Linked DNA regions of Homo sapiens. The protein of the gene in region 1 interacts with the protein of each later gene in a pairwise test. Each region holds a gene or a part of one and is shown in the gene's direction. Other genes may lie near its edges.

Region 1 (3,911 bases):
ATGCCACATGACCTCATCAGCCTGGTTGGGGAATATTCAGTCCTCATGAGGGTGTGGGGCCAGGAGGTGTTGGTGGGCATGGACCCTCCCCCTTGGTGTGGAAAGCAAAGAAAGTGAACACACCTGAGCCCAGCGTCAGACCACAGAGGATGTTCACAGAGCAGGAGGCTCCTCCCCATCCACAAAGGATGTTCACAGAGCAGGAGGCTCCTCCCCATCCACAGAGGATGTTTACAGAGCAGGGAAGCTCCTCCCCATCCACAGAGGATGTTCACAGAGCAGGAGGCTCCTCCCCATCCACAGAGGATGTTCACAGAGCAGGGAGGCTCCTCCCCATCCACAGAGGATGCTCACAGAGCAGGGAGGCTCCTCCCCATCCACAGAGGATGTTCAGAGAGCAGAGGGCTCCTCCCCATCCACAGAGGATGTTCACAGAGCAGGAGGCTCCTCCTGGACCACAGAGGATGCTCACAGAGCAGGAGGCTCCTCCCCATCCACAGAGGATGTTCACAGAGCAGGGAGGCTCCTCCCCATCCACAGAGGATGTTCACAGAGCAGGGAAGCTCCTCCCCATCCACAGAGGATGTTCACAGAGCAGGAGGCTCCTCCTGGACCACAGAGGATGCTCACAGAGCAGGAGGCTCCTCCACATCCACAGAGGATGTTCACAGAGCAGGAGGCTCCTCCTGGACCACAGAGGATGCTCACAGAGCAGGAGGCTCCTCCCCATCCACAGAGGATGCTCACAGAGCAGGGAGGCTCCTCCCCATCCACAGAGGATGTTCACAGAGCAGGAGGCTCCTCCTGGACCACAGAGGATGCTCACAGAGCAGGAGGCTCCTCCCCATCCACAGAGGATGCTCACAGAGCAGGGAGGCTCCTCCCCATCCACAGAGGATGCTCACAGAGCAGGAGGCTCCTCCCCATCCACAGAGGATGCTCACAGAGCAGGGGGCTCCTCCCCATCCACAGAGGATGTTCACAGAGCAGGGGGCTCCTCCCCATCCACAGAGGATGCTCACAGAGCAGGAGGCTCCTCCCCATCCACAGAGGATGCTCACAGAGCAGGGGCTCCTCCCCATCCACAGAGGATGCTCACAAAGCAGGAGGCTCCTCCCCATCCACAGAGGATGCTCACAGAGCAGAGGCTCCTCCCCATCCACAGAGGATGCTCACAGAGCAGGGGCTCCTCCCCATCCACAGAGGATGCTCACAGAGCAGGGGGCTCCTCCCCATCCACAGAGGATGTTCACAGAGCAGGGGGCTCCTCCCCATCCACAGAGGATGCTCACAGAGCAGGGGCTCCTCCCCATCCACAGAGGATGCTCACAGAGCAGGGGGCTCCTCCCCATCCACAGAGGATGCTCACAGAGCAGGGGCTCCTCCCCATCCACAGAGGATGCTCACAGAGCAGGGGGCTCCTCCCCATCCACAGAGGATGTTCACAGAGCAGGGGGCTCCTCCCCATCCACAGAGGATGCTCACAGAGCAGGGGCTCCTCCCCATCCACAGAGGATGCTCACAGAGCAGGGGGCTCCTCCCCATCCACAGAGGATGCTCACAGAGCAGGGGCTCCTCCCCATCCACAGAGGATGCTCACAGAGCAGGGGGCTCCTCCCCATCCACAGAGGATGTACACAGAGCAGGAGGCTCCTCCCCATCCACAGAGGATGCTCACAGAGCAGGGGGCTCCTCCCCATCCACAGAGGATGCTCACAGAGCAGGAGGCTCCTCCCCATCCACAGAGGATGCTCACAGAGCAGGGGCTCCTCCCCATCCACAGAGGATGCTCACAGAGCAGGGGCTCCTCCCCATCCACAGAGGATGCTCACAGAGCAGGGGGCTCCTCCCCATCCACAGAGGATGCTCACAGAGCAGGAGGCTCCTCCCCATCCACAGAGGATGTTCACAGAGCAGGGGGCTCCTCCTCATCCACAGAGGATGCTCACAGAGCAGAAGGCTCCTCCCGGGAGGCCAATTACAGCTGTGTGTTTGCACGGAAACATGGAAACAGGCCCTGTCCATCAATAGGGCAAGGGTTAAAAATTCAGTGTGTGTGTCTGTATGTGTGCTCATGTGTACAGAGTTGCCAGGAAACAGTTAAATGAACCAGGTAGCTACCAGATGGCTCAGGGTGGATAAATCTCAAAGAGATAATGCAGCAGCAAAAAGTTCAGTTGCAGAATAAAATGTGTAGGGTGCTACCATTTATGTACAACTTAAGCATATAAAAGTCATTCTCCAGTGTGTGTGGGCACACAGGCAGGCAGGAGGCACACGGAGGCCTGCCCGCTTGCTGTGCCCATAGACGCAGTGCTCCCACGGGCAGGATGGGCACCTGTGGCCACTTCACCACATCCAGCTCCTCCTTTTACACTTGAGGCCTGAGGGGAAGGAGGATGCTCTGAAGCCAGGGAAACCCCGGCAGGTGTTGAAGCTTGGGGTGGGGTGCATAGGGGTTGTTAACATGTTCTTTATACTTCCCAGGAATGTTTTAGGAGCATCAGCCTGATTTCTCATCCCTTTCCTCCCCGCCTCAGTTCCAGATTTCGGAAGGTTCACGAGTGTTGCCGACACGCCCTCCCAACTGCAGACATCCTCCCTGGAGGACCTGCTGTGCTCACATGCCCCCCTGTCCAGCGAGGACGACACCTCCCCGGGCTGTGCAGCCCCCTCCCAGGCACCCTTCAAGGCCTTCCTCAGTCCCCCAGAGCCACATAGCCACCGAGGCACCGACAGGAAGCTGTCCCCGCTCCTGAGCCCCTTGCAAGACTCACTGGTGGACAAGACCCTGCTGGAGCCCAGGGAGATGGTCCGGCCTAAGAAGGTGTGTTTCTCGGAGAGCAGCCTGCCCACCGGGGACAGGACCAGGAGGAGCTACTACCTCAATGGTATGGCCGGGTGCGGGGGCACCTGGGGGGGCCCCCAGTGCAGGCTGGCAGCTGTGGGGAGGGCATGACTGGGTGGTCAGGCAGGGCCGTTTCTCCATCCAGTCACACAGAGTGGAGGGAGGAGAGCCAGGCTGGGAGGCTGGGGTCCAAGGCTGTGTCTGTCCTAGTCTTTTGTCCATCTTTAAAGATAAAATGGGTTGCTTATCTTCTTCTTGGGAAGTTGTGAGAGTTCTTTATGTGTCTGGATATGAGTCCTTTTTTGGGTGTATGTTTTGCAGATACGGTCTCCCACTCCATGGTTTTTCATTTTCATAATAATGTTTTTTGATGAGCAAAACTGTTTAATTTGATGATGTCCAATTTATTGATTTTTCTTTTGTATTTTATGCTTTTTATGTTCAGTTTAAGAAATCTTTGCCAAGCCCAAGGTCACACAGATTCTCTCCTGTGTGTTGTTCTAGAAGTTTTATAGTTTAGGTTTTACATGTAGGTCTCTGATCAATTCCAAGTTAATTTTCATATATGGTGTGAGGTTTGCATGTAGATATCCACCTGAGGCTCAGGCCAGCCTCCCACCTCAGCCTCCCAGGTATCTGGGACTACAGGTGTATGCCACCAGGCCTGGCTAATTTTTTGGTTTTTGTGTTTTTGTTATTGTAGAGATGGGATTTTGCTACGATGCCCAGGCTGGTCTTGACCTCCCGGGCTGAAGCAATTCGCCTGCCTCGGCCTCCCAAAATGCTGGGATTACAGGCATGAGCCACCATGCCTGGCCTGTCAATTTTATTTATCTTTTCAAATAACCGATTTTTTGTTACATTGATCTGTTGTATTGTTTTCTTCATTTAAATTTCATTTATTTCTTCTCTGATCTTAATTATTTTTCTTCTAATTTTGGATTTGGTTTGCTCTTGCATTTCTAGCTCTGTAAGATGAATCATTAGCTTATTTGAAGTTTTTCTACTTTTTTGATATAGGCACTCATAACTATAAACTCTTAGCACTTACAGCTATAGCTCT
Region 2 (3,500 bases), on another chromosome or scaffold:
CAGCCTCCTGAGTAGCTGGGATTACATGTGCACACCACCACACCCGGCTAATTTTTTGTATTTTTTAGTAGAGACGGGGTTTCACTATGTTGGCCAGGCTGGTCTTGAACTCCTGACTTCATGATCCGCCTCCCTCGGCCTCCCAAAGTGCTGGGATTACAGGCATGAGCCACCACGCCCGGCCTGGACTTTCATTTTTTTAAAAGGTTCAAAGTTATAGTGCAAGGTTAAGTTGCTTACAGATAGCAGGTGCTTTAGGAACCCTCTAGAAGGAAAGTTGCCATGGGCTGGGTCATCAGGGCTGGTCACAGAGGAAGGAGGAGCTTGAGTTGGGCTTGATGGCTGAGCAGGGATGAGCCAGACAGAGCAATACTATAGAAACAGGGGCTGGAAGGATGCTGTGAGCAGCTTTCAGAGGGAGGCGTCCAAAGGATGAGTGCAGGCAGCGTGCAGACCAGCCTGGCAGCAGCCAGAACACAGATAACCTCCTGGGCAGTCTGATGGACAGCCGAGTGACACATGAAAGCAACATATTTTGATGTGGCTCAGAGCAGGGAAGGCACGGCACTGAGAGTGGGGTAGTCTAGAGATGGTGCCTGGTAGGCTATGGCCAAGGGGCATATGCAGAGCTGTGCCTGGCACCCAGGGGTGACTAACCTTGGAAAGGAAGAGCTCAGCAGATCAGACCATTTGAGAGGGAAAGCGGAGCCTGGGTGACTGGAAGAGTGACGTCACCGCTGCCTGAAGCAGGGGAAGACCCACCAGATTTTTGTCACATGGCCTCTTTCCCAGTGCAGCACTGCCCCCAGCACCTGCACCTCCATCTATTTCTGTCTGAACTCTTGTACTCTTGCTACCTTTCTGGACAGAGTAGCCTCATCGGGGCCCTAAGAGGCAGAGAGAGAAAGACAGTACTGAATCCCTCTGCTCTGGGGATGCGCCTGATGTCACCCACTTGCCTGAGAGACCCTCTGAGATCACTGTGGATCACACACTCCTGCTAGTTGCCCAGGAGCCGTCAGCCAAGGTCTTTGCAGAGCGAGCTGTCTCCATAATCAGACACCTCCAGAACTCTGCTGGAGAGTGAAGGCAGCAAGGAGAGGTGCACTGGCTGCGGGACGTGGGGTTTCTGACCTCTCAGATCATTGAGTATTGTGATCCCAGTGAAGCAACAGAGTTTGAGAAAAATCATTCTGAATAATGAGAAAGAAGATGGCCTGGACCCAGGCTGAGCAGTAGAACCTGGTTGGGTTGTGTTTTTCTGGTTTATTGATCTGGTCGACGTGGACCACGCCTTGCTGCACCTCTCTCTGCCTCCCCTGTTTCCCTTTTCTTGGGCCTTCCTAGGCTCCCTGGCTCACGGTGCATTCTTTTCTCATCACAGGCAATTTTTACCCAGAAAAGCAAGCCGGGGCCTGACCCGTTGGACACGAGACGCTTGCAGGGCTTTCGGCTGGAGGAGTATCTGATAGGGCAGTCCATTGGTAAGGGCTGCAGTGCTGCTGTGTATGAAGCCACCATGCCTACATTGCCCCAGAACCTGGAGGTGACAAAGAGCACCGGGTTGCTTCCAGGGAGAGGCCCAGGTACCAGTGCACCAGGAGAAGGGCAGGAGCGAGCTCCGGGGGCCCCTGCCTTCCCCTTGGCCATCAAGATGATGTGGAACATCTCGGTAAGCACCAGGCCTTTCATCTTTAAAGGAGATGTTCTCAAAATGCCCATCTTAGTGGGCCTGGTGAGGATTTTTTCCAGGAAGTAGGTAGGAAAAGACAGATTATCCACAGGAAAGGTGCCTGTATAGTCAGGTTACCTCCCCCTGTTACACAGAAGTCTAAACCAGAATGTTTGAAATTGTATTCTGCCCACAGATCACCCAGAGATCAGGTTCAAAGGTAGATTTTGGCCAGGCCTGGTGGACCATGCCTGTAATCCCAGCACTTTGGGAGGCCAATCACTTGAGCTCAGGAGTTTGAGACCAGCCTGGGCAACATGATGAAACCCCATCTCTATGAAAAATACAAAAATTAGCCGGGTGTGACAGCTTGCACCTGTATGTAGTCTTAGCTACTTGGGTGGCTGGTGGCTGAAGTGGGAGGATCACTTGAGTGCAAGAGGCAGAGGCTGCAGTGATCCAAGATTGTGGCACTGCACTCCAGCCTGGGTAACAGAGTAAGACCCTGTCTCAAAACAAAACAAACAAACAAAAAAAACCCAAAGGTAGATTCTGATTCAGCAGGTCAGGGATGGGGCCTAAGATTGTGCCTTCCCAATAAGCTCCCACGTGATACCAATGCCACTGCTCTGTCAACCACACTTTGAGTAACAAGTGCCTAAACCACTGATTTCTACCTTGATTGGTTAGTTCACCATCCCCTCCTTCCTGCAACCTGCCTCACTGGAGAGGGGGAACTGGATCTCTTTCCTTTAAGCTCACTCTGCAAGCCCACCTCCAGCTCAGAGGCTTGCATGTCAACTCCCTACTCTCAACTCTTGGAAGGACTCAAGACTTTGGGAAATTGAAGAGTATTTTTCCCCCACGAAAACAATTTCTGTCCACTTAATTTATTTACCTTGCCATTGCTAGGTAGGTTTTAAAAATGTATTAAGACCCGATGCTCTGTCTCCTGCCCATCCCTGGGCCCATCCATTCAAGGCCGCAGTGGGAAGTGGCCACAGCCGTTCATGGTGGGCCCTAGAGGATGCAGTTTCTTGTTCTGATTTGGGGAATGAAGGTTATTAGACTGTTGCACTCCAAGCTGGGTTAATAGCTAACAAGTAGCCAAATCCTTTGCCTGTGAAACATCCAGTCTTAGCATCAAAACATGCCCTGGTTGGGGCATGACAGCTGTTGCATTCACAGCAGCTACAAGATTGTTGATTCTTACCAGATCTTCTTGATACAGGTTTCATATGTCCTGAGAGCCCTTCCCAATACAATGAGGACAATAAGGTGCTTTCCCCACTCTTTGGTTTTTGTCTGTTTGTCGTGGGGGATGGAGGAAGGCTGTTCTGTGATTCAGTACAACTTCACCCAGGGTGGAGCATGTCAGGCTCTGGCCTGGCTGCTGAAGGGAGCCTGCAGAATGAGTTAGTGATCCAGTGGTCAATTTTGAACTGGTGGGGACCAGAGGCACCGATGGCAGGAAGCAGCACCCCATATCCTGATCACCTTGGCATCTCCTCCAGCCCTGGCATCTAGGCTGCAAGAGTTTGAGGAGTGTGAAGAATCCTCTGAGTTGGCATGGATGGTACCTCTGTCTGCCTCCCAGGAGTAACTAGTCTCAGCCTGCCAGTTAAGACAGGTCATCTTATCTCGAAGGTCAGAGCCAATTCTAGGCAGTAGCTGCCCTGCTCCAGGTTACAGGCAGGGCTTACAAGGAACTTACCATTCTGCTCCGGCCTGTGTAACCCTGGGTTCCTTGTGGGTGTTCCAGGCAGGTTCCTCCAGCGAAGCCATCTTGAACACAATGAGCCAGGAGCTGGTCCCAGCGAGCCGAGTG

The links. Proteins that work in one complex are often made in the same cells at the same time.
Region 2: the proteins of SPATC1L (region 1) and PINK1 interact in a two-hybrid assay, tested with the Homo sapiens proteins (one large-scale study listed by BioGRID and IntAct).

The regions. Positions count from the first base shown.
Region 1 is NC_000021.9:46,167,288-46,171,198, reverse strand, and holds part of SPATC1L (speriolin-like protein), read left to right. Parts: intron 1-2,540; coding exon 2,541-2,891; intron 2,892-3,911.
Region 2 is NC_000001.11:20,636,458-20,639,957, forward strand, and holds part of PINK1 (serine/threonine-protein kinase PINK1, mitochondrial precursor), read left to right. Parts: intron 1-1,384; coding exon 1,385-1,672; intron 1,673-3,434; coding exon 3,435-3,500. UniProt on the Homo sapiens protein: Serine/threonine-protein kinase which acts as a sensor of mitochondrial damage and protects against mitochondrial dysfunction during cellular stress.